Linked DNA regions of Homo sapiens: region 2 is linked to region 1. Evidence: fine-mapped expression QTL. A gene starts in region 1. The other region holds a variant in brackets. All regions are shown on one strand. Distances are from middle to middle.

Region 1 (15,971 bases):
GTAGAGCCAAAACTCTGTGACAGGAACGTGTTACAAATCAGTTTCCTCAGCCCTGGTATCCACTGAGGGATGAAAGCTTGCAAGGTACAGGGAAGGAGCAAGACTTAGACTTTGGAAAAGCTGGCTTCAAATTCTGACTCTATCCTTGTGCTTTGTGGCCTCGGGCACATTTTTTATCCTCGCCTCTCTTAGTCTTAGTTTTCTCACCTATAAAAGTAGTAGTTTTGTGATTATAGTAAAACACGCAGCATGGGGCCTGGCACACATGTGGTCACAACAAGTACATATTATTCTCTTTATAATTCTGACTATTGGAGATATGCAAATGGAGCCACTATTTTTATAAAATCATCATTTATTCCTTTAAAACCTCATTACGGATATTTCCTAGCCCCTCTCAAAACCAACTTACCTTTGTCAAGTCTCCTATGGTGGTGCTATTCAATTTTAATTAATTAAAAACGAACAGACTCATCATGTTCAACCTACTAACTCCATCAAATGTTCAAAAGAAATGTTTTAAAGGCATCAGTTTTATTAGATTGATCATACAGTGGTATGTATTGAAAATTCTTTCCCACTTCTTAAGTATTTCAGTCCCTCTCCTGCTTCCATAAGTAACCTCAGGGAGGAGACACAGATTCAAGTAGAGGATTTTTTCACACGTGTGCTACATTAGAAGATGCTCTGGAGAGAAGGCATCAGCATGCAGGCTCCCAGAATGGTCTTGAGAGCACCCTGGGCATCACATCTGGGACAAACCGATGAGGTTAATTTATTACAAATGATTCCCCAATGACCCTGAAATACTGCTTTTGCTGCCATCTGAATGGGCTCAATTAATGTGCTGCCAAGAATTTTTTCCACTGATTATATAGACATAACTATAAATCCATTGCAAATGGAGGGAAGGTACCTGCGTCTACATTTGTCTGCATGAACAGAAAAGAAACCTGAGACACATCGATTTTACAATGTGTTTAAAGTGAATTCTTCTTTGCAATTTCCTGACTACATTCTTGTTCTCTGAAAACAGGCAATGTGATTTTTATTGTGTATAAATTGGTTTTTGGTGAAAAGGAGTTAAAAGATTTCAAACTTAACTTTTCATCAACAGCCAATGGTCATTCTGTTTATGACCTTACAGGATATAGCTGGTATATGTCACAGTCATAGATGGACGCTGTGCACTGACAAACAAACCTAATCATTAAAATAGGGGACTGCCTGTTTCAAATGCATTATGCACCACAGACAGTATGAACCAGAAAAACTTGGCCTATAATATTTATTCTAATTATCTCAATCAAGAATAACCATTAGTATATTCTCAGAGAGAGAGGAAAGGTGATTTTTTTCATTTCATGATAATGTCACATTAGTTTTTTTCAGAATATATTAAAATAAATTTAATCTACTCTCAATTGCTAATATTTTTTCCTTTTGTTTTCTGAAAACAATCAGACAATAGCTTAAGAAACTACAATGGTGGATCTAATCAATCCTACTTCATATGAAGATCAAAACCTACTTCAGGATTCATTTTAGAAAGTACATATTGGAAAACTATATTGAAAAATGACCCGTTGGAATCTAGATTGACATGGCAACATTTGAAACAAGTGGTCTAGCTAACACAGTCGACCATGCAGAAGGAGTTGCAACATTTATAGAAATACCGAAGGAATTCTCGTGAACAGTAATTGCCGAAAGGAAAGAAAGAATGGATAAGAATGGGTTCACGGTTTCAGTGTCGGTGACATTACTGAGTTCATGTTAGCAAAATCAGGTCCCTTCCAAACACAATTATGTAAACTATTTGTATTGGATTGAAAGGGGTCATATTCTGTTACATACATGCAGCATTAAAAAATCTACCATCATGTAAAAAAAAAAAATAGTCTGGAAAAAGTAAGTCTTTCTCAATTTTCCTCAATCACTCAAATTTATTTTAAAGTCCAGGTAAAAACTCTGAAACTCATTTACTTCTAATAACATCATGGGCGTATCATATCCCTTCCTTTCCTACCCCCAGTCAGCCCTCCAAACAAAGTATAAAAGGAAACCCTTGCCCCCAAGCAAAACAAAATAATGTTGAGTGGAGAGCTCAACAATTTTTTTTAATGGTGAAAACACTGGTAACATTATTTTCACTTCAATCACTTAACTCATCTGAACGATGTCATTGTTTCACGAATGCTAAGTGCTCCTGTGGCTTGAGAGGGAATCCAATGCAAGGAATTCAAGGGAAGCATCTCAAACCTTGGCCAGGCAGTGGAAGTGCTTGGTAAATGCAGAGTCCTCCTGGGTGCAAGGGTGCTACACATCACTGGGCGAGCGCGCTCTCTGGGCGAGACTGGACGGGATGCAGCCGCAGCAAATGAGACAGAGCGCTTTCTGGATCTCTTGGTTTCTGAAAGCATATATGACAGGGTTGATGATGGAATTGTAGGTGGCGGGCAGGAGGGTGGCGTAGGTATAGATGGAGGGGTAGGTGTAATCCGCTATCAAGGAATAGAGGGTGAAAGGCATCCAGCAAGCAGCAAACGTCCCCAGGATGATAGCCAGGGTGGAGACCCCTTTCCGGGTGGTCACATAGTGCGACGTGGCCAGGAAGTGGTGCTGCAGGGCTATCTGATGGGCGTGCCTCATCACAATCTTACAGATCTGGATGTAGAGCTGAAGCATGAGCGCAAACATGAAGAGGAAGGACACCGAGAGGATGGCCGCGTTGTTCTTGGTGAGCGGTCTGACCACGCTGCAGGTGGACTCGTCTCGGAGGCAGTTCCAGCCCATGACGGGCAGCAGCCCCAGGCAGATGGAGGTCCCCCAGAGCATGACGAGCATGACATAGGTAAACGTGACCGTCCTCTCCGAATGGTACGTCAGAGCGTAGTACAGTGAGAGGTAGCGGTCAACAGTGATAGCCAGCAAGCTGCAGACAGAGGCAGAGAAAGAGGCGACAATGAGGCCGATCGTGACCAGCTTGGTGGCTTCTGACTGAAGCAGGTAGGCAAAAACAAAATTGGTGATGAGTCCAATGCCGGCCAGCAGGTCTGCAAGAGCCAGGCTGCCTATTAGCAGGAACATGGGTGCTCGCAGGCTGGGGTTGTGGAAGATGATAAGGACCACAATGGCATTTTCACAGGAGATGAGGGTTCCCGAGGTACACAAGACAATGTCCCAGGGGTTGACTACGAGCTCAGGCTCTGGCTCTACGGCAGGAACCCGGGAGGAGACAGCAGCCGAGATGTTCTCCGCAGCAGCGGCATCTAAATAATCCCGAGGCAGCCCGCTTAAATTGACCTTCAGGTCTTCATTCATTTTAACCCCTGTCCTCTTCAACGAAAAGACAGGCTTTTTAATGTTTAAATACAGCAGGGTGACAATCCAAGATCATGCAAAAAACACACAGACAAACAGAAAGCCAGCCCCTGCTCAGATACCAGTACCAAATGCCACAAGCTTCGGGAATGAGGAACTGTTGGGAAATGAAACAAAAGCCAAAGTCTCTGTGGTTTAAACCCCACAACAAAAATGCCGTTTGGCATTGGGGAAAACACAGGGTAGGACTTCAAAACACCAGCGTGAGCGAGGCAGGCACACACGGACTCGCGGCGGTCTGTTTGCAACAGCGCTGGGAATGCACATTGGAAAATCACATCTTGCATGCTGAAAACGAACAACTGTTTGACATCTGGGCTGCTGCCGAGAAAACCACGCGGCAGCGGCAGGTCTCGAGCCAGGGGCCGCCATCCTCGATGGAATATTTAAATCGCCTATTTCCATCGAACTCCCACCCTCCAAACGCATCCCCCGCGCGCGTGCACATCCTCAAACGCACCCCCGACCGGAACAAAGAGGGGCTCCAGACTCCCCCCGTGCGCACGGGGCAGTCGGGAGGGCCACGAGAGGGAGGTGTGTGCAATGGAAGTACCGAGACAGACAGACAGACAGATGCCCATGCACTGCTGCCGATTCCCTGGCGGCGGGGACGGGAGTCGGACGCGAGGGGGACAGACAGGGTGCGGGGACAGGCGGCCCGCGGGGGCGGGGGGGTCATCGAGGGGGTCACCTTGGCTCGCCCAGGCCGAGGGGGCTCCTCCGGTGCTTCCGAAGCGCGTGGGCTACTCGTGTCGCATGTCGGCGCAGTTGCCCGCTGTGGCAAGGGGGGGGCGGCCGGGCTCCGGAGCGGGCCGGGAGGGCGCGGGGCGCGCACTCCGCGGCAGGTGAGCGGCGCGGCTGCAGGTGAGCAGCAGCCTCGGCTCGCGCGCCCAGCTTTCCCCGCCGCGCCCGCCCGGCCCACACGCTCCCCGCGCGCGCGCCGCCCCCGCCCCGCGCGCGCCCGGCCGCCCGCCCGCCCGCGGGATCCCCGCGAGGCCGCGCGCCCCCACGGGTCAGGGCTGCTCTAGGGTGCGGGCAGGCGAGGGCGGCCCAGGGGCGCGGGGCGAGGGGCGAAGGAGCCAGGAGGCTGAGAACTGCATGGTAGCCCTGCCTGCCTGCCGCGCTGCGCGCCCCACCCCAGCCGGCGGCCCCGGGCTTGCACCGGGCGGGGCAGGGGAGCGCTGCCTGGAGCCCTGTGACCTATTTCGTTCCTGTGGTTTCCCTGGGGAGCTCCAAGTCTCTACAGTCCTGGCTTTTCCACGCCTTTACCTAAACCACTACATTCAGGGCCAAAAGAATTGCTTAGGATGATATTCACGATCAGCAGCAGGGATGCGGGGTGGACAGGTTAGGGAAGCAGATCTTTAAAACAACAAAATGCCCCGCACGCTCTTTTAGAATTGCCCATGGTCCTGGACCTGGTTCATTATCACTGTTCCCCAGGAACATTTGCTTGACTGGATAGATGCTGCTGCTCTGTGGATCATCATTATCATCACCAAATTGCACTTATTAAGCGCTCTTTGAGCTGTGTTTTCAAATGGAAATCATTTACTGAGTTCTTGTAGAAGCTTCCTGCAGACATTGGCCAAACCCCAATTCATTTAGATACTGAAGTGGCACTATTAATTTATTTTTTCATTTTGCCACATCAATGGATTCTAAGATGAAGAACCTGATAGCTGTCTGCTTTTATGATCCCATGCCTCCTCTGGATATAAAAACCAGAGCACCTCATAGATCTTAAGTTCCAAGATGATCCTCCAGTTTAAAGATGGGATAAGGAAAAAGTGTGATAGTCTTGTCTTGCCCTGTCAGAGGTGAAGGTTTTCCCACTGCTTTTCTTCCACTTGCCCAGGGGCTCTTGTATGAATGGAGATGGTCTGCAGGCAAGGGACCCTACAGGGGCATCATCAGCTGACCAGCCTGCCTTCCCCTGGTGCTCACGTCTTCTCTACCCCAGCCCAACAGATTCGGAGCCTCAATCACCCTTGACTTTCTTCCCGCTTCTCCTTCCCTTCTTCCATCAATCAGTTTCTGGCTCTGCAAGGTCACTCCAGCTCTCCCTGCATGCCACTTCTCATCATCCTCAGCTCCCTGGTTGAGGCCCTCATCCCCTCTCACCTGCATTTCTGGTACCCACCTGCCTCTCCCTTTCCCAACCTCCTCGATTTGGCACATCTATTCCATGATGTCCAAGACCTCCTGCTACCTCCAGAATAGTCTGAACTTTTTACCTTGACAGATTCTGCTCAGTAGTTCTTGGGGTGGGCCTACCTTCTGCATTTGCAAGCCTCTTCCCCAGTGATGCTGCTGCTGCTGCTGGTTGACAGATCACACTTTGAGAAGCAAGGTTCTATGGAGTTTTCAGAGTGGCTTGTTCATGGTGGGGAGGCATCAGACTCGTGTGTGTCCCAAGAACCGGGCTAAGGGCTGGGCATAGAAATTCAGTAAGACACGGTCTCCAGTCTGGTAGTGACACACACACAAATCAACAATAATGCCAGGCAGCAAATGCTGTCATGAAGGGATGTAATCTTCTTCTCAATTCTACATGATGCATCAAAGAATTTTAGAATGAAGCGATGAAAAATGAACAGTCACTTAACAAACATGTAGTAGTTTTGGCATAATATAGCTCAACCTACATGGCAAAATTTTGGGCACCTCACATTGGCATTGCAGTTTAGGGAAAGCGAATGCATAGGGCTAGCCAGACACTATTCTAGCCAATAACACTGACATGGTTTATGGCCCTGACTTCACGGAGCTTAAAGGGGTGGGACTTTTTAATTCAGTCGTTAATGTGTTTGAGAATTTTTTTTAAAAAAGAGCTGAGTGTTGGAGGAGAGAAAAAAGTATTGAGGTGAATGGCAGAGGTATACAGATTTTTGTAAAAAAAATTTGTAAAACCTGGGAGGAGTCAAAGGAGGAAACTGAGGCAAGTTACACCTGGGGCTTGGATACCGTCACTGGGGAGAGCCCAGGAGTTAGCTGCTAACACTGATGTGGACACTCAGCTCCCCTGTTGGTAACAGCAACTGTGTTCACAGTTCTGTCCCCACTCCCCCCGGAATGATTACTTGTAACTTCCCTGTACTCCGGATTCTATGTTCATTGGTTTATTTGTTAGGACTTTTGTTGCCAGGGAGCAGAAATCCAATTCAAACTAGTTTAAGAAAAAAAGGCGTTTTGTTGTCTGGCATGACTAGGAAAGATCTGGAGTGGTTCACATAAAAGAAGGAGAAGCTACAGGAAACAGGTGGCTGGCAGTCAGCCCTGCCCTGATTTATTTCTGCTTGTCTTTGCTTCTCTGTGTCTGTGTGCCTCAAACTTCTCTACCCCAGACAAGTTTCTTCCAGGCAGTCATGGAAAGTGGCCTCAGGCAGCCCTGGGCTTGCATTCTAAGACTGTATTCTTAACTTGTGAGTGGAATTCCCATGGAGAACTCTGCCCCAGCCTGGGCTGCGCCCCCTGCTCACAACCAACAATGGCAGCTAAAGGGAAAGAGTGGATCAGTTGGCCAGGCCTGGATCTCATGTGGTGTCTTGTGATGGGCATCCCTCTGAACTTCACCAAATGGGCATTTCTGAGAGGAACAGTGAGTTGGGACACCAGGCACACCAACTCCAGGTCTGGAGGTCGGGATTCACCACAGCTTGGAACTGGGTGAGCCAATGGGGACGTTTTGCACAGCCTCAGTAACGAGGGCCATAGAGTAGCTGTCTGCAAAGCTGTCTTCTCGATGTATTCACCGCCCATGACAGGACACTGCCGCAGATGCCCTCAGAAGTGTGACATTTATTGCCTTTTCATCACTTACCTTTTTTGTCACTTTTTAAAATAACTTCAGCAAGAAGTTGTAAACCTTCAAGCATGATCTGGCATTTTCACAACCTATAGTAACGATGACTGTTTTATGTGAGAAAGGCTCGGTGCCTGTCTTAATCACACATGGCATCTTTGCCAACTTAAACCCTGAGGGCACATTTATTAGCCCCTTCTTGTAACTGTATTTGTAAATCATGAGACTGTCACAGATTACTGGCTGGAGCAAGTCATAAACTGAGCCAGTACTGCACAGCACATGGTGTCTGTATTGAAATTTTACCAGTCAGCTTCTTTCTTGCTTATGTTAATGATTATTACCCAGTTTCCATAGATCTGATTAATTGGTGCAGTAATCTGAACCATAGATTGACCATGCTTTAGTCTGTCCAGCCAAGGGTCTATAACACACCTAAGAATACACTATAATCCCAAATTAAAGTTTGATTTTATTGATCTCTTCATCTGACAGTAAATTTTATAACTGTATAACCTACATATAGACAAGTGCATATTTCACAAGTATACAGTACCATGAAGATATATCAGATAGATATATCTATGTACCCACTATCCATCTTGAGAAATAGAACATTACCAGTACCCCAAAGCCTTCCTCTTGCCCACTCCCAATAATTATCCTCTGAAAAGAAACCACTATTCTGAATTCTAATATAACAGATTAGGTTTGTCTGTTTTTGAACTCTATATGAATGGAATCATACAGTATGTACACTTTCATGTCTGGCTTCTTTCACTCAACATTATGTTAATGAGACATATTCATTTGGTGCAAGGAGCAGTAGTTTAATCTTTTTCATTGCTGTATGGAATTCTATCGTAGGACTATTGTGTTAGTTCGTTCAGGCTGCTATAACAAAATACATCAGACTGGGTGATTTGTAAGCCAAAGAAATTTACTGCTCACAGTTCTGGAGACTGGGAAGTTCAAGATTATGGTGCCAGCAGATTCAGTGTCTGGTGAGGGCTCATTCCTTACAGATGGCACCTTCTTCCTGTGTCCTTACTGGCAGAAGGAGCAAACAAGCTCCTACGGGCACTCATCCTATTCAAGAGGGCAGAGCTCTCAAGACCTAATCACCTCCCCAAACCCCGGTTCTCAATGCTACTACACTGGGGATTAAGTTTCAACATAGAAATTTTGGGGGTAAACATTCAGACCACAACAAATATGCTGCCATTTTTCCATCTATTTCTTATCGATCCACATTGGGTTGTTTTCTGGTTTTGGCTATTGTGACTAAAACCATGACAAACTTTCTTGTACATGCCATGTGATAAACGCTGGCTCAAAAGCACATTTTAATAATTAGTTCTCCATTAAAATAATACCATGTTGCTATTTAAGGAGAGGGAGGAGACTATGAAAAATCACAACACATCCCTCCTTCCCCTTTTAAAATTCACTCTAAACTTCCATTTTAACAGAGGGCAAAGGTAGTTCATGGAAATATCAAAGAAAGAAAGAAAGACGGGAGGGACATACTACACAAAGATAATATTTAGTCTGCGGTTCTGTGTGCGAAAAGAGAGCTCCGTTGTCAACACTAACATTACTTCATTTCTACATATATTCTGGTGTTTTTTTTTTTAAGAAATATCTTTTTTCTGACTATAAACTAATAATACTTATTGCAGAAAATTTGGAGCCTACAAGTAAAATTAAAGTGTAATATGTCATGTACTCTTACAGAGAAAGCTGCTGTAAACTTTTTGTTAATATATATTTTAATAAATTTAGTTGGGATTTTTTTTGAGAGGAGGAGGCAGAGTAATGAGGTGTTACTTTCTGAAATGTTTTATTCACACAAGCGCATGGAGCAATAGTTTTTCATTTTCTTTGGATTTTGAGCTACCCGTCAGTCTGCTGTCTGTGCTTTATGGTGTGGACAGCAGACAGGGACCATTCTGCTCCCTCTCTGCTCCCTCTCTCTTCTCCTAGCATCTTCCCCCGCCCCCAACCCTTAACCCGACTCCTCCAACTCTCTCGATCCTTCTGGCAGGCTGGATAATGACCCCCAAAAATATCTAGGGCCTAAATCCAGGAACCTGGGACCGTTACTTTTGTTAAAATGGGCTTTGCAGAAGTGATTAGACGTCTTGAGGTAGGAGGACATTCTGGATCCGGGTGGGTCCTGAGTATAATCACCAAGGTCTTTCCAAGGCGGAGGCAGGAGGATTAGGGTCAGTAGTAAGAGATGTGAGGGCAGAAGCAGAGGGAGAAAGACAGAGATGTGAAGATGTTGCTCTGCCTGCTGTGAGGACAGAGCAGGGGCCGGGAGCCACAGGGTGTTGGCAGGCTCTGGAAACTGGGAAGATCAAGGGGATTCCTCCCTGGACTTCAAGAAGGAATGCTGGTCTGTGGGCCAACCTTAGACTTCTGACCCCCAGAACAAATGAGTGGGTTTTTAAAACTGATACATTATTATTAACTAAAATCCATAGTTTGCATAAGGGTTCACACCTGGTGTTGTCTATTCTATGGGTTTTGACAAATCTGCAGTGACGTGTATCCACCATCATAGTGACATACAGAATAGTTTCCCTGCCCTAAAATTCTCCGTGCTTGCCTATTCATCCCTCCCTCTCCCTAATCCCCGACTAAACTTTTTACCGTCTCCATAGATTTGCCCTTTCCAGAATGTCATAGAATTGGAATGATACAGTACGTAGTCTTTTCATATTGCCTTCTTGAACATAGCAATATGCATTTAAAGGTTTTCCATGTCTTTTCGCAGCTCGATAGCTCATGTATTTTTATTGCTGAGTAATATTCCAATGTCTGGATTTCTTTATCCATTCACCTACTGAAGGACATCTTGGTTGTTTCCAAGTTTGGCCAATTATGAATAAAGTGCTATCCACATCTGTGTGCAGGTTTTTGTGTGGATATAAGTTTTCAACTCATTTGGGTAAATACAAAAGTCCATTGTTGCTGAATAATTTGTGTTGTTTTAAGCCACACAGTTTGAGGTAATGTGTGAGGGCAGCAATGGGAAAGGAATGTAGGCCTTCGTCATGAGCCCAGGAGACCTGGGCTGCCCACAGGTCCTTGCAAACTTTAACCGCCTCACTCATGCCCAGCAGGGCCAGGCCTCTAGTTGCCAACAACAGGATATCCAGTATTTATTAATACTCACTGTGTGCCAGGCACTGTGTTAGGAGCCTTCCAAGTACATTCTAACTTAATCCTCCCAACAACCCTACAAGGTAGAGCACCTCTATTACCTTATGTATGACTGAGGGAGGTGACACACAGTGAGGTTCTATACCTGCCCTCAAAGCCAGGCAGTTAGGTGCCAGGATCTGCTTCCTGAGCCACTGGACTACACCACCTAGAGAGCAAGTGCCACTTATAGTAAGCTTTAAAATGGGCTTATGGAAATCCTACATCCATCCAATGTCTCTTCTCAGGTAAGAGGTTGAAGACCCAGCTTTGCATCTCTTTTAGAAAGACAGGAGCTTGTCCTACACAAGTCTACTCTAGGACTCCATTATCATTTCAATTTTGAAACCTGTTTATAATCTAATAGGACCTCAGTAAAACCTCAGGAATCTGCTTCTGGAGTTCTTTCCTGTTGATGTCATTGCAAATATTCTCAAAGGCCTTTTGCTGGCTGCTCTAGGCCTGGGCCCTACATCCAAAGGGGAGGATGACTGATCCCTGGCTGATTCCTTGCACCAACTTTGACTGACAGCTGTCATGGCAGATTCATCGAGGTCATGGGCAAAAGATGACAGCTGAAAGCCGGCTGGACCATTCAGGGATGCTCGGGTAAGGCTGGACACAGGCATTTGCAACAGCATGGGGAGAAGCTGTTGACTGTGCCTCTTGGTGGAATCCTGAGACCCTCTCTTAGCCTGAATATCAGACGCATCAGAGCACCAGGAGATGGGCACCAGTGCCCTGAAGGCCAAGGCCAGCAGGGAGGTGTTGACCAGCATTTCCAAAGGTGCAATGAGAAGAGAGGCTGAACTCATGGACTGGTTTCTGGGCATCTGGAGATAACTGTTTGGGGACTTCTTGAAAGCACTGGAAGACAGTTTAAAGGCATCTAATTTTTAACTATCAAGCCAGTGGAGTTTCTTTATCCTTTTGTCTCCTGAAGGATACCTTGGTTGTTTCCAAGTTTGGACAATTATGAATAATTGGCCAATATAGTAAAAGAAAACTTAGAAGCAAAGTAGCAAGGGCATCAGCAAAATACTTTGCTTCCCTGCTTCCAGCTACCCTCGGACTATTCTTCTATTTTCCCTTTTCAAGAAGACACATCAGCAGGAGGGCAACAGAATTTAAAAATCTCATCTGAAGGAAAGGCTGGAACTTTGCTCACCGTACACATTTCTTCCAAAAATAGTAGCCTGGGCCACTATTGTTTGGGAGTAAAAAGGGAGTGTTCACCTGGAGTTTCAATCAGGTTGTAAAAAGAAGAGATTGTTCTTGCCTGGCCTTGTAATAAAGACTATTAACCCTGATTTGGGCAGTGTCGCTCAGATCGGTAGTGCACTGCCAGCTCAGGGTTGGAATGCACTGTGGCCAGGGATGCTAGGAAGTTATCTTCTCAGGTCTTGACACCCTCGCTGTGTCTGGGCAAGAACTAGAGGAGAGGAGCCAGTGATCAGGTATGGTATTGATTTTGTGAATCACTAATGACTTGGGAGCACTGTTTGTGCAACCAAAATGCTTTATACTTGAGTTGAAGAGTTAAACGTCTGCAGGCCAGCTTGACAACACATGCTTTCTCTGCAAAGGAGCAATCCTGGGAGATCTATCACTTAATGCACTGTGAATCATGTGTTTGCAATCTCTCTCTTTTCTTGTGACCTACATTTAATGGTACCTGATGTACTATGCTGTGTGGTTTGAAGGAAATGTGTACTGTGAGCAAAGCCACAGCCTTTTCTTCTGATGGGATTTTTAGATTCTATTGCCCTCCTGCTGGATGTGCCTTCTTGAAAAGAGAAAATGGAAGGATAGTCCAAGGGTGGCTAGAAGCAGGGAAGTAGAGTATTTTGCTGATGTGCTACTTTGCTTCTAAATTTTCTTTTACTATATTAGGAGACTTAGGCGGCCAATTATAATCAATAAATTTTAACCAAAACATGATGGTTCAGCATGTCCACATTCTGTAGCTCTTGAAATACTGGCTTGAAATGTTGCTGAATGAAATGGGAGAGGAAGGAATGGCAAGGTCCCAGGGTGTGGGTGCAAGGCCCTGCCCTGGCTTGTGAAGGACGCACCTCCTCTTCACTTCTACTCAACTCCTTTAGCCACACACAGAGGTTGGGGACACTATATTTACGCCCAAAGTTCTGCAAGGTATGTACCCAGAGTGTGATAATGTGTGATGAGAAGAGCTCTACCATGGTCTTGCTCACAGTGAAGAATTGTTAGTTCTCTGTTCTGTCTCCAGATGTTGCCTACCCAGGCCAGGGTCATATGTGGCTAAGTGATTAGCACATATTTTGGTTGGTAATAAAGATGACCCATCTATCCCAACTTTTCATCATTCTACATTTGATTCTACATGCTACACTTGAGGCTTGCACATAACTGAGTTTACAATGATCATGTAAGACCAGTGGTACCTTGATGTTTGGATTTCATGCATTGGTAAATTTCACCAACAGCAGCAAGTACAAAAAGGAGAGACCAACATGGAGTTGCCAAATTTATATTTTGCTGAACACACTCACTTAAATGAGCACACTTCTAGCTACTTTCATTATCATTTCACAGTAAAGACCTTTTTAGCGCGCACACACACACACACACAGACATATCTCACACAAAAGGAGAGTGCTTACGTTAAACACAACTTGTTTTGTAAAAACTCACTGTATTGTTCTGATTATTCTCATTACCCCCATATGGGTGAAAACTGCCATGGCTCAGATTAGTCCGGGGAATGGCTCTTGAGAACCACTGATGGCTGTGATGATGCACCTTTTGTATCCACTCAAAGGGATCATAGAAAACAGTTAATACTTTTTGTCAAATCAATAGGGAAAATGCACAGGCAAAATTGCAGATTATAAGCAGTTGTTTTCTTATGAACTCATGAGCATTCCTCACCTCTCTGAATCGATAGCCAGTGTTTATGGAGCACCTAATGTGTGCTGAGCCCTGCGCAACAAACTCAACCCTTTATGGGAATTAGAAAATACTCATGCCGCCAAAAGCATGTTGGGATGTTGTTGCTGGGGGAAATGGCTGGCCAACTGCCTCCCAAGAAGCCTCAGGAGGCGACATTCATTTCTCTTGGTTTAGGCCCTCACCTTCAACATTACACACTCAAAGACGTCATTTATGTCAGCACATTATGAGTGGCTTATGTTTGAAGGGAAGATTCACATTAACCCAATTATTATATAATAAATATTTACTGTCTTGGGAGCCAGATATGAGCAGACCTATGTGGCCTTGAGCAAGTAAACAACTCGCTTCAGTTCTCTCATTTGTAAAATGAGAATATTAACAGCACTTACTGCCTAGGGCTAGTGCTGCATTATATGGGCTAAGGCACACAGTATACTCATCCCAGCCCGGCACAAAGCTAAGGCTCAGTAAACAATTGTGATGACTGTTCTTGTCACTATCTCTAGTGCATTATCTCCTGTCTCCCTGTGCAAGTGAAGACCCACGTGAATCCCTTTCTTTCTGCTGTACTGGCCAAGTACTTGGCATTCTCCTTGGAGTCACTGCTCACAAAACATCCAAGCTGTCAGGAAATCCTGTCAACTCTCCCCTCAAAATACATCCAGAATCCAAATTCGCCAAAACGTGGGAGCAACCAAGATGTCCTTCAGTAGGTGACTGGATAAACAAACTGTGGTCCATTCAGACAGTGGAATATTATTCAACACTAAAAAGAAATAAACTGTCAAGCCATGAAAAGACACAGAAGAAACTTAAATGCACATTGCTGAGTAAAATAAACCAATCTGAACAGGCTACATCCTGTACAGTTCCAACCCTAGGAACATTCTGGAAAAGGCAGTGGAGACAGTTACTCTAAGGTAAAGATCAGTGGTTGCCTGGGGTTAGGGTGGAGGGAGGGAAGAATAGGTGGAGCACAGAGGATTTCAGGGCAGTGAAACTATTCTGTATGGTATTACAATGGTAAGTCCATGTGATTATACACTAGTCCAAACCCACAGAATGTACAAAACCAAGAGTAAACCCTAATGTCAACTACGGACTTTGGGTGATGACGACGTGTCAACGTAAGTTCATCAGTTGTAAAAAACACACCACCCTATGAAGGATGTGGATAATGGGGGAGGCTATGTGTGTGGGTGGGGGTGGGGGGTGTGGGGGGGCGGTTATATGGGAACTCTCTGTACTTTCTGCTCAATTTTTCTATGAACCTAAAACTGCTCTAAAAAATAAAGTCAATTTTAAAAATAACTAGTAGAGGAACACTGTAGAAAATAAATTCCAATAATGAATCAACCACAAAGTGATCACATAAAAAATATTTAAAATGAAAAAAAAATAGCCCCACAATCCCACCTCATCCACTGCAACCATCTTGGTCCAAATGAGTGTCACTGCTCACCTGGGTAACCCCAAGAGCTCCCCTCCCCTGCTGGCTTCCTCCAGCTGCTTAATGCTCCTCAGTCAGATAATGTTTTCCCTTGGCCAAAACTCTCCAATGAGATCCTGTCTCCCTGAAAGTGAAGCTGAAATCCCCTGCCCTTCCTGGTCACCTGGGCCTCCTGCTCCTCCACCTCTACCCCTCCTGTCCCTTTTCCTCTCAGCACCCTGGTTGTTGCTCCACCCGGAAGGCTCTTCCCCTGCGTGTCTCACGACTGGCTCCTGCCTCCCCTGGGTCTTTCCTCAAACTTCCCACTTTCAGTGGGTCCTGCCTCAGCCACCTTGTCTAACTTGCATACCCCAACACACATGAGTCCTCTTTGCAGCTTTATTTTTCTCTTTAGCACTTATCACCATTGATGTATGCGCTATTTTATTTCTTTCTCGTGTTGTCTCCTCTCCACTTTTCCACCAGGATACAAGCTTGACAAAGGCTGGGATGTTTGTCTATTTGGTATGTGACTGTAACTCCAAGGCCCTAGAACACTGCCTGGCAGATAGAAGGGCCTTATTTTTGATGAATCGGTCAATGAAATTGGAATAGGGAGCTAGGAAAATCGACTGTTGAGAGGTTGGCCTAAGACAGCGGCAGCACGAGCCTGGTGGCAGGGCGGGCCCTTCCCGGGGCCTGGGAAGCTAAGCATCTGGTGGCCCTGAGAGCCTCTCCCCGGACCAGCTGGGAGGGCCTCTGCTGCGGCGTCCGCCATGCCTGGGAAAGTCATGTCAGAGTTGGACGTGCTAATCTACAGGGCCAGGTTTGAGGCAAGTCCTGCTTGCATCTTTTGTCTTTTTTAAGTGACTTGCCTTAGTGCCAGCAAAGGCACAGATCATGTTAAGAGCTAAATCGTGTCCCCCCTAAATTTATATGCTGAAATTCTAACCCCCAGTACTTCAGAATGGGACTGTACTTGGAGACAGGTTCTTTAAAGAGATGATTAAGTTAAAATGAGGCCATCAGGACTGGGCCTTAATCCAGTATGACTGGTGTCCTTGTAAGAGGAGATCAGGTCACAAACACACACAGGGAAGATGAAGTGAGCATGCAGGGAGAGAGAAGACAGTCACCCGCAAGTCAAAGAGAGTAAAGAGAGTGGCCTCAGAGGAAACCAACCCTGCTGACATCTTGATCCTGGACTTC
Region 2 (15,971 bases), 48 kb after region 1:
ACAGGCACAAGCCACCATGCCAAGCTAATTTTGTGTTTTTAGTGGAGACCAGTTTTCTCCATGTTGGTCAGGCTGGTCTCAAATTCCTGACCTCAGGTGATCCACCCACCTCGGCCTCCCAAAGTGCTGGGATTACAGGTGTGAGCCACTGCACCTGGCCTAAATAGATTTTTAAAAAGATACAAATGGTAGAAGTAGCACACAGGGATGTTAAAGCAGCTATTATGAACATACTCCTTATCTTCAAGAAGATAAAGGAAAGCATAAACATGATGAACAACATGGAACATAAAAGCCCCCAATCTAATTCTGAGGGATAAAAAATATTATATCTTAAATGAAAAATTCAGTTGATGAGAATAACAGCAGATTAAACATTGCAAAAGAAAAGACCAATGAACTAACTTGAAGATACAACAGTAGAAACATTTAAAAGGAAACAGAAATGGAAAAGATTGTAAAAAATTGAGAAAAGCACCAATGAGCTGTGAGCTAATATCAAACAAGCAATCTAACAGATGTATAATTAGAGCTCTGATGGGGGAAAAAGCAGAGCAAGGGAGACAGAAAAATATATTTGAAGAAATGGCCAAAAAAAGTCCAAATTTGATGAAAACTATAAACCCATAGATACAAAAATCTCAACACACCCCAAGCACAAAAAATATCTTACAAATTACACCAAAGCACATCATAGTCAAATTGCTCAAAACAAATGATAGAGTGAAAATCTTTAAAGCAGCAGAAAAAAGACATTAACACAAAGGGAAATAAGGACTGCAAATTTCTCATAAGAAACTATGCAAATCAGAAGACCATTCCATCACATTATTAAAATACTGAAAGAGAAAGCTATTAATATAAAATCTATAGTCAAAAAAAAAACTTCAAAAAATGAAGGCAAAATAAAGACTTTTTCAGACAACTAGAAATTGAGAGAATTAATTACCAGAAGACTAGCATTATGAGGAATGTTAAAGGAAGTTTTTGGTGTTTTTTTTGGGGGGGGGTAGAAGAGAAATGCTGCTGGATGGGAATTGGATGTTGCACAAAAGAATGTTGAGCAGTGAAAATGACAAAAATGTGGGTATGTGGAAAATACATTTTCCCTTCACTTTTTCAAATATCTTTTTATTTTATTTTTTTTAATTTAAATTTATTTCTTAAATTTATTTCTATTAAATTTTCTTGTAACCATGTACAACTAAGTTGTTCTACTTTAATTTTTTTTTTTTTTTTTTTTTTTTTTTATTGATCATTCTTGGGTGTTTCTCGCAGAGGGGGATTTGGCAGAGTCATAGGACAATAGTGGAGGGAAGGTCAGCAGATAAACAAGTGAACAAAGGTCTCTGGTTTTCCTAGGCAGAGGACCCTGCGGCCTTCTGCAGCGTTTGTGTCCCTAGGTACTTGAGATTAGGGAGTGGTGATGACTCTTAACCAGCATGCTGCCTTCAAGCATCTGTTTAACAAAGCACATCTTGCACCGCCCTTAATCCATTTAACCCTGAGTGGACACAGCACATGTTTCAGAGAGCACAGGGTTGGGGGTAAGGTCATAGATCAGCAGGATCCCAAGGCAGAAGAATTTTTCTTAGTACAGAACAAAATGAAAAGTCTCCCATGTCTACTTCTTTCTACACAAACAGCAACCATCCGATTTCTCAATCTTTTCCCCACCTTTCCCCCTTTTCTATTCCACTAAACCGCCATTGTCATCATGGCCCGTTCTCAATGAGCTGTTGCGTACACCTCCCAGACGGGGTGGTGGCCGGACAGAGGGGCTCCACACTTCCCAGAAGGGGCAGCCGGGCAGAGGCGCCCCGCACCTCCCGGATGGGGCGGCTGGCCAGGCGGAGGCGCCCCCCACCTCCCTCCCGGACGGGGCGGCTGGCCAGGCGGGGGCTGACCCCCACCTCCCTCCCGGACGGGGTGGCTGGCCGGGCGGGGGCTGACCCCCCACCTCCCTCCCGGACATCAAATATCTTTTTAATTGATTAAAAAATAGTTGACTGTTTCAAGCAAAGTAATAATTAGTCATGTATTTAGGGATATATAGCATATGTAGAATTAAAGTGTATGTCAATCATAGCACAAAGGCCAGGAGAGGGATATGGAAGCATACTGTTAAAAAGTTCTTCAACTATACAAAAAATGGTATAACATTATTTGAAGGTAGACTGTGATAAATGGAAGATATTTATTGCAAATCCTAGAGCAACCACTGAAACAAAACAAACAGTTCTAGCTAATAAACCGAGATGAATTGATTAGGATACAGACATGCTCAGGGTCATTAATTAATACCCAACATTCTTATATCAAAATGAAGCAGACACAAAATTACTGCAAATATGGGGAAGCTAGAAAGGATCCATGTACCTGTCTAACTGCCTAGTCATGACATACTCCTACAAGTGCATTCCTAAGGTGCATATCAAGGCATTCTAAGAGAAAAGGTAATGTAGGATACCACTGGTACTACCAAACTTAGATAAAGATATATATGTTGTTAGAGAGGGCAAACCAAAAATAAAACTTGAAGCCCCCCACCCTGCCACAGTCATTTGAATGGACTTTCTCTTCTAGGCAAGTGCCCTCCAAGTTTAATCTGAAAGACTGGTTTGGGCCATGACAAGGAGGGAGGTGTTGGACATGCCTCATCATGCCCTCCTCCCTTTTGGAATTCAGGAAAAGTCAACCAGCATTAACATCAACACAGACCTTAAGTCTGATATGAAACATGTACAATCTATTCTCTCTGGAGTCTTCATCTGCATGGTAAAGCTTTGGTTTCTACAACCTCTTATTGTTACCTAGACTTTTCTTTCTATAGATAATAACTCTTTCAACCAACTGCCAATCAATCAGAAAATTTTTAAATCTACCTATAATCTGGAAGCCCACCCACCCTGCCCCTTGAGTTGTCCCACCTGTCTGGACTGAACCGATGTATATCTTAAATATATTTGATTAATGTCTCATGTTTCCCTAAAATATATAAAACAAAGCTGTGCCCCAACCACCTTGGGCACATGTTCTCAGGGCCTCCCAAGGACTGAGTCACTCATATTAGTGACAGGCTAGTGTCACTCACATTTGGCTCAGAATACATCTCTTCAAATATTTTTCAGAGTTTGACTCTTTTCGTTGACAACAGTGATATCAACTTTCACAAGACACTACCAAGGAAACAAAGAGGGAGAGAAATTCAGGTCAAATCAGTGAGACAGGTTTATGATATGGACTCCGCTTTTCCCCTTCAACTGAGAACTCAGTCTCAGTCAACCCCATTCCATTTTGAGTATCCTGTTTTTAAAACCCTCACTACACGGACTACCAATAGTTACTCAAACACACATGCTCCTCTTTCACATATTCTTTTTTTTTTTTTTTAGACAGAGTCTTGCTCTTCACCCAGATTGTGTAGTGGTTCAATCTTGGCTCACTGCAATCTCCGCTTCCCAGGTTCAAGCGATTCTCCTGCCTCAGCCTCCTGAGCAGCTGGGACTACAGGCGTGTGCCACCACGACTAGCTAATTTTTGTGTTTTTAGTAGAGATGAGGTTTCACCATGTTGGCCAGTCTGGTCTCGAACTCCTGACCATAGGTGATCTGCCCACTTCAGTCTCCCAAAGTGCTGGGATTACTGGTGTGAGTCACTGCACTCAGACTGTTTCACATATTCTTGCCTTTCCTCTGCCTACAATACCCTTCCCTATCTTGTTTCCCTGGCAAAGTCCCAGTCATCTTCCAAATCGATTAATATGTCATCTCTTCTGTGATGCATTCCCTGCCTTTCCCTGGTGATTTCTACTGGGTCCCCATAGCACCTGGAGTACAGCTCTAGTTTGACATTTATCACAGAGAATTGTGTTTTCCCTTTTTATTTTCCCCTAGAACAGTAGTTCTAAAACTCCAGCATGCATTAGAATCACCTGGAGTGTTTATTCAAACACAAATTCCTGCCATCTCCTTTCCACCCTCAGAGTTTCTGATTCAGTAGGTCTGAGGTAAGGACCAAGAATTTGCATTTCTAACAAGTTTTCAAGGGATGCTGATGCATCCAGGGACTACATTCCAAGAAACATTAATCAAAACAGTGAATTCTTAAAAACATGAAAAATGTTGTAAGAGATATAGGAAAAAAACAAACCAAAGTGTTCTTCCTACTCTCAACACAACACTGCTGACCCCAGATGTATGGGGCACTTCCCCATGCAGCACGCGGTCAATTTGTCCATGCACAGCAGCTGGGCATCCTTTAATTCAATCCATTTCAATTCAATTCAATTCTAACACTATCTACTAGGATACAGCGTTGGATTCCACAGGTTGAGGGCTCAGTCCCACAAGACTCCCCACTTCAGATGTCACTTGCAAGCCCCAGGTTGTGTTCTGTGCTTCTGACAGAGTGACTATAAATTGCAGGTTTGCATGACCTCCTCCTTAGGTGCGATTAATTTGCTACAGTAGTTCACAGAACTCAGGGAAATACTTCACCTACATGTACTGGTTTATTACGAAACATATTAGAAAGGATACAGATGAACAGCCAGATGAAAGAGACATATGGGGCAAGGCATGTGGGAAAGACGCAGAGATTTCCTTTTCCTCTCTGGGTGTGTCACCTCCACGTTCAGATATTCAGAAGCTCCTGGAACCCTGTCCTTTTGGGCTTTTATGGAGGCTCATTATGTAGGCATGATTGACTATATCATTGCCCATTGGTGATCAACTCAACCTTCAGTCCCTCTTCCTTCCCAGAGGTTGGGGTAAACTTAAAGTCCCAACCCTCTAATAACATGGTTGGTTCCCCTGGCAACTGATCCCATCCTGAGGCCATCCAGGAGCCCCCAGCCAAAGGTCAATCATTAGAATACAGATACGTATCCCTTTGGAGATTCCAGAGGTTCCAGGAGCCAAGTAGAGATGAAGACCATATTTATATAAACACACACACACACACACACAAACACACACACACAATAAATATATAAATATACAGGATACAAATATATAAATATACAAATATATAAAATAAATCACAACATCACAGATGTAATGTTCATGTTTGTATCCCTCACACCTAGGATGGTGCTAGCACAGAGTAGATGCTTAATATACATTTCTGTAGAGTGAATGGATAAATGCATGAATTAAAGCATAAATGTGATACATTATGTGATATAATGATATAAAATAATATAGCCTACTAGCACCCCTAGCAGAAATCACTGCAGCTTTTTTACCAATGCCATACTGCAGTAGAAGAGTATATGTGTAAAAAGCCATCAAATAAATATTTAGCTATTTGCCATTTATACATTTGTCACCTAATAAGAAATAAAACTCTGCAGAGCAGCAAATAATGGAAAAGGCATTTTAATCAGTCTTAGGAATTGCATATTGAGAGACACAGATCTAGCAAATAATTAATGGTCCTGTAAGGGCTGGTAAGGGAGCTAGAGTGAGTTTATACACTGGACGGTTTTAGCACAGTTCATGATTGATAATGGCTGATTAACAGTTTAGGATATCTTTAGTTGATCAATTTAGTTTCATGTAGTTTTCTCCCAAGGAGGTTGATGGTCAAGCCTAGTAGAAGCAGCTAAAGTCCAATGTGGCTGCTTTTATGATATCTGGCCCAGCCTAACAGGTCAGATTTCACCGGGTGTGTATGTAGCTATGTAACTGAGTACTCCCATTTTTTCTAAGAAAAAGAGAATGAGTTATTATTATTTTTTTAATTTTCTCTTCTCTTCTCTTTCCTTCTTTCCCACTGTTCCCGACTTCCTACTTGGCCCTTTAGAAATGCAAATATGACCTTTTACCTCCCCTTCACCAGACACTCCCTACAGGACAAGTTCACCTGATTATGTGCACCAAGGCAGAACTCTCCAGGAGAGTTAGCAGTTGATTTACAGAGCAAAGCACAGAATTCTCACCCACCAGGAGGTTGCCTTGGAACTCCCTCCTATTTGGGGAGTTTTTGGCCTAGTCCTGCCCACAAAGGTGCCAGCAGTCACCAGCTGAACTGCCCAGTAGATAAGACACCAGAGCTAACACAAAGACTCCCCACTTGATTGCTTCCTTTCCTGCCTTTTAAAAGTACCCGTTGTCAGCTCCAAAAGTGAAGCAATACACTTAAGGCAGGATGCCCGTATTTCTTCCCCTAAGCTAGCCTTGGAATAAATCACTTTTTTTATACCAGACCTTGCTCTTGAAAAGTGGACTCTGCAGGTGGCAAACAACTAACCTACAGTTTGGTTACAGCTGGGGTCAAACTCCCATGCCTCTCTGACTCCTTTTAGATACTTCTGACATAACCATCGGTAACTTGGTTTTTTTTTTTTCACACGTTGTTGTCCTACTTTCTTGCAAAATAGTTTTGAGACAGTTTTAAAAATTGAAACACACATAAAGAAGTACATTTAAAATTTTTTTAATGGAGTAAGAGTAAAAACAGTTCAGAAATTTATTACCCCAATATTCTACAGAAAATAAATTTCTGAACTGTTTAACCATTTAAAGACAAGTAACCATTTAAGATTTATTACTCCAATATTCTACAGATAAGTAGAGTATTGGGGTAATAAATATCTGAAGTCAAAGACAAAAAATAAGATCTGTTTCAGGACCTAAAGCAAAACAATGAATACTTGGAATAAAGAAGGTAAGCAAAGAAGACAGATAAGACATAAATGAAGAGGAAAGCCAAATGCAGCTTTAGTTCCATCTCAACTCCTCCTTGTCTTTAAACCAACTTTCCTATGTCAACACAAACTTCTTCAGTGCATCCAGAGAGAGGTATCCTCCATTCCTCTCCCTGGTCCAAGACCCCAGGCATCCTTCCCCCAGTCTGGTGGGAGTGCATTCCTTCCTCCTACCATGATTTTCTACTCTTCATTTCTACCTTTGCCCATAAGGGCAGCCTCTGAATGCCTGTGAGGAAGTGTGTGCTTTGAGCCCTTTACCCTTCTCATGTATCAACTGCAGAATGCTGGGAAAGCTGGAGGCAGTTCTCAGTGAATGTCTGCTGCACGGTGGAAGGACTGAGGAGACATTCTGTCAACATCAAATGGGGGTTCCCCTTGGGAGCAAAATTAGGAAGAATCCATACCAAAGGGACGGAACCAGACTTTTATAGAAATGTCACATCCCAAGAAATGGTTTTGGCAGCTGGTGTGTTGGGAGGTGTTTCAAAAAAGAAGGATTATCTCAAGTGATTTCAAGTGAATGGAGAAAGCCAGCCTAATTCTAATTGATGGCATGGTGCCATAGCTGAAGAAAGACTAGGAGCAGATGGTTGATGGGACCCTTCAATGGGGGTGGGTAGGAAGGCTAGAATAAGGCT[G/GTGTC]TGTCTCCAGTGCTGTCCGGAGGGTGGCACCTGACTCTCTGTTGGAAAGAATACCGTGGCCCCTCTTCCCAGGCTGCACACTCCAGTCCATCTGGCAGGCTTACTTCTCACAGTGAGTCACGAATTTGCCATTTTGGTTGCTGTATGGTGTTCTAGGGGCTGCCAAGTGGAGGTTGCCTTCACTCTCAAAAACTGACTTTGTTTCTCTTTGATTGCAAGTGGATGAACGTTGCAAGCCTCCAATAGATAAAGACAAGATGAAGAAAGGGATTTACCCCCCCCCCTTATATTGACCAAATACAGTGGCAATAATGTGCAGATATTACCCCACTCCTCCTGCTCGATGCCTGGTACTTCATCTCTGAATGGTCCTGGGTCCCAAAGCAAGGGTTGTTCAGGGGGACCATTCAGGGGACTGTCAAGGGGTGGCCTGAGACTTACAGCCAAGTCTTAGCAAGCATGAGCAGGTACCAAAGAAAGAAAGAAAGACATTCTGAGTCCTTTCCATTAATCTTCTAAGAGCAGAAACTATGAGCCCGTGGTGAGGTATTGCGGTGACTCTCTGACCTTCCAAAGGTTTTGTAAGAATGTAAATCCTTGTATTAAATCCTTATATCCTGGAAATAGCTAGGGTGGTATCTGTCTTCTGCAACTAAATCCTGATTGACTGACATACTACGAGAAGAAAAATACATAAAATGGAGGTGTCAGCTTCTTGGGCCCCGTGGAGGTGATTTCTCTAAGGATCTCCCTTCCAGTTCTTCTCAGCATGGTTGGTGGGAGGTGGCCCTAAGAGACTGAACAAAACCCAGTTCCTGATCTGAAGCTGAAACCAATCTTGTCCCGTGGTCAGTGAGGCCTTGGTAAGTTGTCTTCTTAGACAACATCTAACCACAAACACAAAGGTAGGGAGTTTATAATACGTCGTAGATCACATATTATACTAGGCAAGTGTTACTATTTTAATCTCCATTTACAGGTGAGGCTTTACCTGTAAAGCTGAGTGACTCATGCACAGGCCCAAAGTTTGATGATGGGGCCAAATGGACCCATTCCTGGGACCTGCTAATGGCCCATGGTGCTCATTGTCTACAGCAACTGTCAGTTTTTTGTTGTTGTTTATTTTATTTGTTTACTTATTTATTAGAGACAGAGCCTGACTGTGTTGTCCAGGCTAGATTGTAGTAGCATGATCCTGGCTCACGATGCCTTAAACTCCTGGGCTCAAGCAATCCTCCCACCTCAGCCTCCTAAGTAGCTGGGTTTACAGGTTCACACCATCATGCCTGGCTAAATATTATTTTAAAATTTTTTTGTAGAGATGGCAGTCTTGCTGTGTTGCCCAAGCTGATCTTGAACTCCTGACCTCAAGTGATCCTCCTGCCTCAGCCTTCCAAAGTACTGAGATTACAGGTGTGAGCCACCACGCCTGATCCAGTTTAGATTTTATTTCTAATGGTATTGTACTTCTTCATCTAGAAATGCTACCTATTTTCTCATCTATATTTGCAAGTTTGACAAATGTCAAAATTAGAAATAAGCCCACAAAAAAAGTATATTTTTGAGAGGAAAAAAGTCTAACTAATAATGGAAGAAACAGAACCGACTTAGTCAATTTTCAAAATTGGCTTTAAATACAGTATTAAGCTCCACAATTCCTTTTATAATAGTCATGTCTTGGGACTGGAAGGAAACCTGTTTACCATCTGTTATGCTTTCACACTCAGCATCTTATGAAATGTTACTTTCCAACAAAGAGCTGTCAGCAATTTCAGGTCAGGAAAAGTCATGGCTAATAAATGGTTTTTATTTCCAAAGAAACTGTAGAATTTTTGCTTATTGTATTATATTCATAAATAAAGGATATATTTTTTAAAGTAAATCAAGAAGGTATTTGAATTTGTGGATTTTCTTTCTTATAGAACACGTACAGGGCTTTGGCATTCTGTTAAGGAAAAGAACTACATTCTTCCGTCTCCTCCAGTAAGAGCAGGTTTCTTCTTGCACAAGAGCCAGCTCTGCCTCCTGCTTGGGCAAATCCAGGTTGCCAACGCCGGCTCAGCCGGCACACGTCCCTGTTGATTTATAGCATTCTGCAGGGAACTAGCCCTGTGTCAGTAAGGTTAAACATTTCGCGACATAATCAATTTTCTTGGTCAGTTTCTCTGCTTCGTCTGATTACAAACTCTTTCCTCTCTAAATTTCACTTTACCTAATAATCAGGTAGGAGATTTGACCATTCGTCACTCTCTCTCTCTCTCTGCAATAACTTTTATTCTGTAGTGTGTGATGCAGGCATTGGGCCCCAGAAAGCCCTGCTCCGTGTCATCTGTGATCTAATCCTTGTGGGGATGCTCGGGCCTCTGCCTGGCGAATTTCCTTGAAGCCACACTTCTAGAAAGTACAGGTGGTGTGCAAGTTCAGGGGGCGGTGGGGCAGGGCATTTAGACAGAGACCACCCCCATATTGTCTGTCAGATAAGCAGAGTTTAAGCTTTTTAAGCTTCTCTTATAAATAGCTATTCTTTTTCTTTTTTTCTTTTTTTTTTAAACGGAGTTTTGCTCTTGTCACCCAGGCTGGAGTGCAATGGCACGATCTCGACTCACTGCAACTTCTGCCTCCCAGGTTCAAGCGATTCTTGTGCCTCAGCCTCCCTAGTAGCTGGGATTACAGGTGCACACCACCACACCTGGCTAATTTTTGTATTTTTAGTATGCCAGGTGCAGTGGCTCATGCCTGTTATCCAAGCACTTTGGGAGGCTGAGGGGGATGGATCACTTGAGGTCAGGAGTTTGAGACCAGCCTGGCCATCATGGTGAAACACTGTCTCTGCTAAAAATAAGTAGCTATTCTTGGTTGAGGGCCTATTATGTTCTAGGCCCTGTTCATATATGATTTTGTTTTAGTTATTAGATCAAGCTTCCACAGGTAGATACTATCCTGCTTTTTACCGCAGAAAACTGCAGGGCATAGTGAGGTGAAGTCACCTGCCCAGGGTCATGCGAGTCTAGTTGATGCCAAAGTGCACGTCTTTTCACCTCCACACCCAGGCACCCTGCTGGCTGCTTCTCTCTGCTCCTGGGGCTCGTGAGGCCGGGGCCCTGCTCCCGTGGGAGTTTCCTTTCTCCCTGTCTCACTGCCCCCTAAAATTCCAACCCAAAGAGAAGATCCAGCTGGGATTCTCGCCTTCCCTCGGTCTTCTCCTGCCCTCCAATTGCTCTCTATGTACACGCCCATCTTCTCAGCCCCATTTGAAGCTTCCTGAGGGCAGAGACCCTTTGTGTCCAAGAACTCTGGGCATATGCTGGGTGGTTGGTGGTCAGGCCCGTGGGCACCCACCTGCTTGTGATTTCATTCGTTGTAACTGATTTCAGCACAGCTGCACACCTCTCAGGTGAATTGCAATCTTTACTTACATTCTTATCCTTGTATTCTCCAAGCTGCTTTGGCTGCTTCCTGGGGTTTTGTGTTCTCTTCCTGGAGATGATGTGGAGGTGTTGTGGTGAAGGGTCAGATGCATCCTTTCCTCTGTCCACTTGCTGGGCAGGGCACACGGGGTTCCTTCAGCACCATCCAAGTGGAACCCTGCAGATGGGGGTGTCCGGAGCACTCACAGAATGAAAGTCAGCATTGAGTCTGGCTCTGGTGCTTTCTTATCTAACTAATAATTCTCCACTTTCAAAAAACAATCTGCTAACAAGTCAGGTACATCTTTACCAGCTACTCCTCTTTCTTAGCCTCCTAATAATGCCCATCAGAAGATGACCACTAGGTCATGGCCTTTGGTCTTTCATCAAGAATTCATGAGCACTGGTTCGTGTCTTGCACTCCCACTGGGAGCAAGGTCTTGAGGCTTTCTCAGAGAGGGCACTGCAGGGCTGCAGGGGCACAGATTTACAACTGTGGTTGTTGATTAAACAACAATAACAGCAGCACAGAGCTGGAAGAGAATGAGACACTCTATTTTCTGAATGCTTGCAGCATGTCTGTCTTTCTTGGCTGCAGCATTCGTCATCACAGGCCTAGGGAAGAGCACGTCAATCCTGGTGAACTTATCGTGCAGCAAAGTGTCCCAGGAGAAAGGGTCTTCCTGCATCTCCTCTCAGCTCCTGCCTGTCGAGGGCTGTGCAGTCTAATCGGGGTCAGAAAAGGAAGGGAAGGTGTGGATGCCAGGTGGATCCATAAACACAGTCACAAGCTGTAGGCTTCTACTGGGGTCAGTCATTTTTCTCTGAGTTTAATAATGGATCCCCATTATTAAAGCCAGTGGACTCCAAGTGGTGGAGCACAGGAAGGGGGGTCCCTAGATGCTCCCTGAGGAGCCACACCCCAACCCCCTGCTCACCCTAAGTTACCTCTGAGGGGAATGGTCACTCGGGTATCAAACACAGAAGTAGCAACTGGACAACAGCTCTGTTATATTTCTGTCAGTGGGACAACAGCTCTGTTATATTTCTATGTCAGTGCTGCTGGGACAGGACACCATCTGGGTGTGGCAGCCTGGCCAGGTGAGCTGATCACTCAGAGTAGCCAGAGGCAGAAGGGCTGGGACGAAAGTGAGGGTGGCCAGCAAGATGGGCGCGAAGTGCAAGGCCCGGTCAGCAAGCTGTGCTAGCTGGCTGGGGCTGCCGCAACAAAATGCCACAAATGGAGCAGCTGAAACAACAGAAATGTCCTGTCTCACTGTTCTGGCAGCCAAGTCCACGATCAAGGTGTCCACAGGGTTATGCAACCTCTGAGGGCACTGGCGAAGGACCTGTTCCAGGCTTCTCTCCTGGCTTTCAGGAATTCCTTGGTTTGTGGCAGCAGAACCCCAATCTTTATGCAGCGCTCTGTGTGTCTGTTCTTCACCTGGTGTTCTTTTCACAAGGACACAGTCATTCTGGATTGGGGACCACCCTATTCCAGTGTGACATCATCTTGACTAATTACATATAACGACCCTACTTTCAAATAAGGTCCCGTGCTGAGGCACTGGGGTTAGGACTTCATCACATGAAGTTGCAGTGGAGCACAATTCAACCCTTAACAAAGTCCATTTTTTGGGAGGCTAATTGGGGGATCGGTCAAAAGGTGGGAGACCCAATAGAAAATCGCAGGTCGGTGAGCGACATGGGTCAGGGTAAACGGTTCAGGAGAAAGGTGAACTAACTTTTCAGGGGGTCTTGGGGCTGCTTCTCCATGATGCTGGCTGCAGGGCACAGTGAGATTTTTTAAAGGCAGTGAAGGATCAAATGCAGTCTTGCTGTAGGCCTGGGCTGCTGCACTGGGTGATCGTGAAGAATTCCTTCAGTTCAGTGTCATCTGACACGCATTCCGGAGCCCGAGCCATGTGCCACAAGCTGGGTACACAGTGGTGGATAAAAACATCCATTGCTGCCCCCAAGGAGCTCACAGTTTTATGATTAAATGGCAACATTTTTATAGTGTCCAAAAACAGTTCCAGTATTTTTTTAACCACATTTTTCTTGAGCTAGACAGAAAGTTAAAATGCAGTGAAACAATCAACCACATGTTAAAATTGCAGAACAAAATTGGTGCCGTGTCAGCTTTCCGCTGGTTTCAAAACAAGCAGTAATGAGCTAATAGGAAAAAAAAATAGTGAGGGCTGGGGGGGTGACATAGAGACGGTTCATGGTATCTCTCTCAGCATATTGTTTTACATTTAAAGAAATGTCTTCATTATTAGGTCTGCTGATGCCACGTTGTAGCAATGTTTATGTCTTGCTTGAGAATCAAGACAGCACCTCTCTGCTCAAGGTTACCTAAATTTATAATCATTCACTGGCAGGCAATGATATAATATAGTCTCTTAATAATAGAGTTAAATGTAATACCTGGCCATGTGTTGGGAAAAGCATGGATTTTCAAGTTAGACACATCTGTCTCCTGTCTAACGTCACTCTGTAACTGTGTGAACTTATTCAGGAAGTTGAGCCTTCTGTTTCTAGTTGGTAAAATGGGAATGATAAAGATTTTCTACAATTATTGGGAGGATTCGACAAGAAAACACATTCAAGAGCCTAGCCCAATCCTGGAGCATAGCAAGCACTTTTAAAAAAAAGTGTCTTGGGCTTACACAAACAAATGCATCTGTTCCTGTCGTGACTTTGCAGATTGGGGAGGCAGGGCTGGGGCTCAGGGCAAGAAACTGCCAAAGAGGAGGCAAACTCAGGGAACCAGAGGCGTAAGAACCCTCCAGGTGAGCAGCTCAGTGCCAGGGAATATCAGAACCACAATCAGGGCAAGGCTGAGAAACCAGGGAGGCTGTGATGGGCAGATGTGTCTACTTCCCAAATACCTTTGAATCTAACCACTTCTCTCAACCCCACAACCATTGTCTGACATTAGGACATCTGGGCTCCTTTAAGGGCCACCTAATTTATCTCCCCACCTCCCCTAACTTTCCCCTATCCACTTCCCTTTCTGCAGCAAGAAAGATGCTTAAAGATGCAATCCAATCTAGTCCTCCTGGGCTTAAAGACAGGATATCCAGCGCACCTGTCCTACACTAGTACAGGGGCTGGATTCCACCTGTTGATGTTAATGACGCTACATTGTTGACCTGCCAATTGAATAGAGAAGACATAGAAATGATTTTTAAAATATACTGTCAGCTGGGTGCAGTAGCTCATGCCTGTAATTCCAGCACTTTGGGAGGCTGAGGCTGGTAGATTGCTTGAGCCCAGGAGTTCAAGACCAGCCTGGGCAACATGGTGAAAACCCATGTCTACAAAAAATACAAAAATTAGCCAGGCATAGTGGCACACATCTGTGGTCCCAGCTACTCAAGAGCCTGAGGCGGGAGGATCACCTGAGCCTGGGAGGTGGAGGCTGCAATGAGCCATGATGGTACCACTCCAGCCTGGGCAACAGAGTGAGTTTTATTCTCTCTTTCTCTCTCTCTCTCTCCTCTCTCACTCTCTCTCTCTCTCTCTCTCTCTCTCTCTATATATATATATATATATATATATATATATACACACACACACAAACACACACACATACATATACATATATATATCACTGAGTTGAAAAGATTAAGACTTTTTTAACTTAGTTTATTTGGACTCAGTGTTTTGTTTGTAGCTTTTAAATGCTAATTTAAGCTTTATAAATCTGCTTTGAGATTTGTCCTGAATTTCAACACAATTCAACTTTCAGTCTGCAGATGAATTTGTCCACTGCCAAATATGCTGAGGTCTGAGCAAGGGCCTATCGTCTGGACCGAGAGGCATCCCTCACTAAGGCAGGAATATTTCAATAGGGATAAATGTGACAGGGTCCTCTGTCTGTCAATGAGTCCTGGAAATTGGATGCTGAGCCTAGAGACAGCTTGCAATTTGAGGGTTACTCTGCTGCCATTTGGAAGGTGTCAATAGGGAGTTGGGACTCTTCCTGTTCCAACAGACACATACTTCTTAACTTGTGAATCCATAAATAGCCTCCTGTCTGCTGAGCCCCAGTGTGCTGTGACAATGCAGGAGCGAGACAGCATGCAGAAGCTCCCTCTGTGTACTAAGCGCTTGCAACACCATCTGCTTTCGTCTGTATTTAGGGGCTAGTTTGTTAGCTCAGAGTGCTAAGAAGTTAAGGTTGCAGGGGCCTGATGCTGCCCAGGCCTTGTTCAATCAAAAGAAAACCTAATATTGAAACAGAAAAAAGAGGAGCCACAACTGAAGAATTTTGCATCTGTCGCCTGCTTCATTCTCCACCCAAGCTCAAAGTTCTCTCCTGTAGGGAATCCAGCCATATATTCCTGTGACTGTGGGTCTGCTCTGTTTGGGGCCTACTTCAGGAAACTGCAAATACCTTTGCTTACGGCTGGCTGATTACAGCTCCCTTAGCTTAGAAACACATGTGTGGTGTGTGGGTCCTGTGGACTGAATATATGTGTCCCCCCCAGATTCATATATTGAAGCATTAATCCCTATGATGGCATTAGGAGGTGGGGCCTTTGGAGGTAATGAGGTCAGGAGGATGGAGCTCTTATGATGGAATTAGTGACCCTGTAAGAAGAAACACAAGAGAGACGTTCTCTTCACCATATGAGGACACAAAAAGAAGGTGCCGTCTGCAAACCAGGAATCGAGCCCTCAGGAGACATTTGATCTACTGGTACCTTAGTCTTGAACTTTCCAGCCTCCAGAACTGTGAGAAATACATTTTTATTGTTTACAAACCACCCATTCTGTAGTATCTTGTTATAGCAGCCTGTCTTAGTCCATTTCATGCTGCTATAACAGAATGTCTGACACTGGATGATTTGTAAAGAACAGAGATTGCTTTCTTACGGTTCTAGAGGCTGGGGAGTCCAAGTTTGAGAGGCTGCACCTGGTGAGGGGCTTCTTGCTGTGGTATCCCATAGTGGAAAGCAGAAGGGCAAGAGAGCATGAGACAGACAGAGAGAGAGAGAGAGAGAGAGAGAATGCATGAGAGGGAGCCGAACTTGCTTTCCTAACAAACTTACTCATTACTATCCAAACTATCTTACAAGACAGTGTTGTTAATTTACTCAGGAGGGCAAAGCCTGCATGACCTCATCACCTCTTAAAAGTCCCACCTCTCAACGCTGTTGCTGACAAGGGATTAAGTTTCCAACATATAAAGTTTGGGGA

Alleles and levels. Alleles are on the strand shown, and positions count from the first base shown. SD is a standard deviation of normalised expression in the study named.
In carriers of allele G in region 2, the expression in neural progenitor cells of the gene that starts at base 4,283 in region 1 tends to be lower than with GTGTC alone (large effect, 0.88 SD a copy in Aygun 2021).

What was found.
Region 2: its variant is fine-mapped to the expression of GPR12 in neural progenitor cells (Aygun 2021, PIP 0.95).

Annotation. Positions count from the first base shown.
Region 1 is chr13:26,756,504-26,772,474 of GRCh38, forward strand. It overlaps GPR12 (G protein-coupled receptor 12), which reads right to left and starts at 4,283. Exons shown (of 2, transcript NM_005288.4): 1 at 4,076-4,283; 2 at 1-3,339. The coding sequence starts at 3,324. The coding sequence ends at 2,320.
Region 2 is chr13:26,804,441-26,820,411 of GRCh38, forward strand. No RefSeq gene overlaps it. Among named protein-coding and RNA genes, the nearest start is that of GPR12, 52 kb to the left of the region's middle. The variant G/GTGTC (reference allele first, on the strand shown) is at 7,354.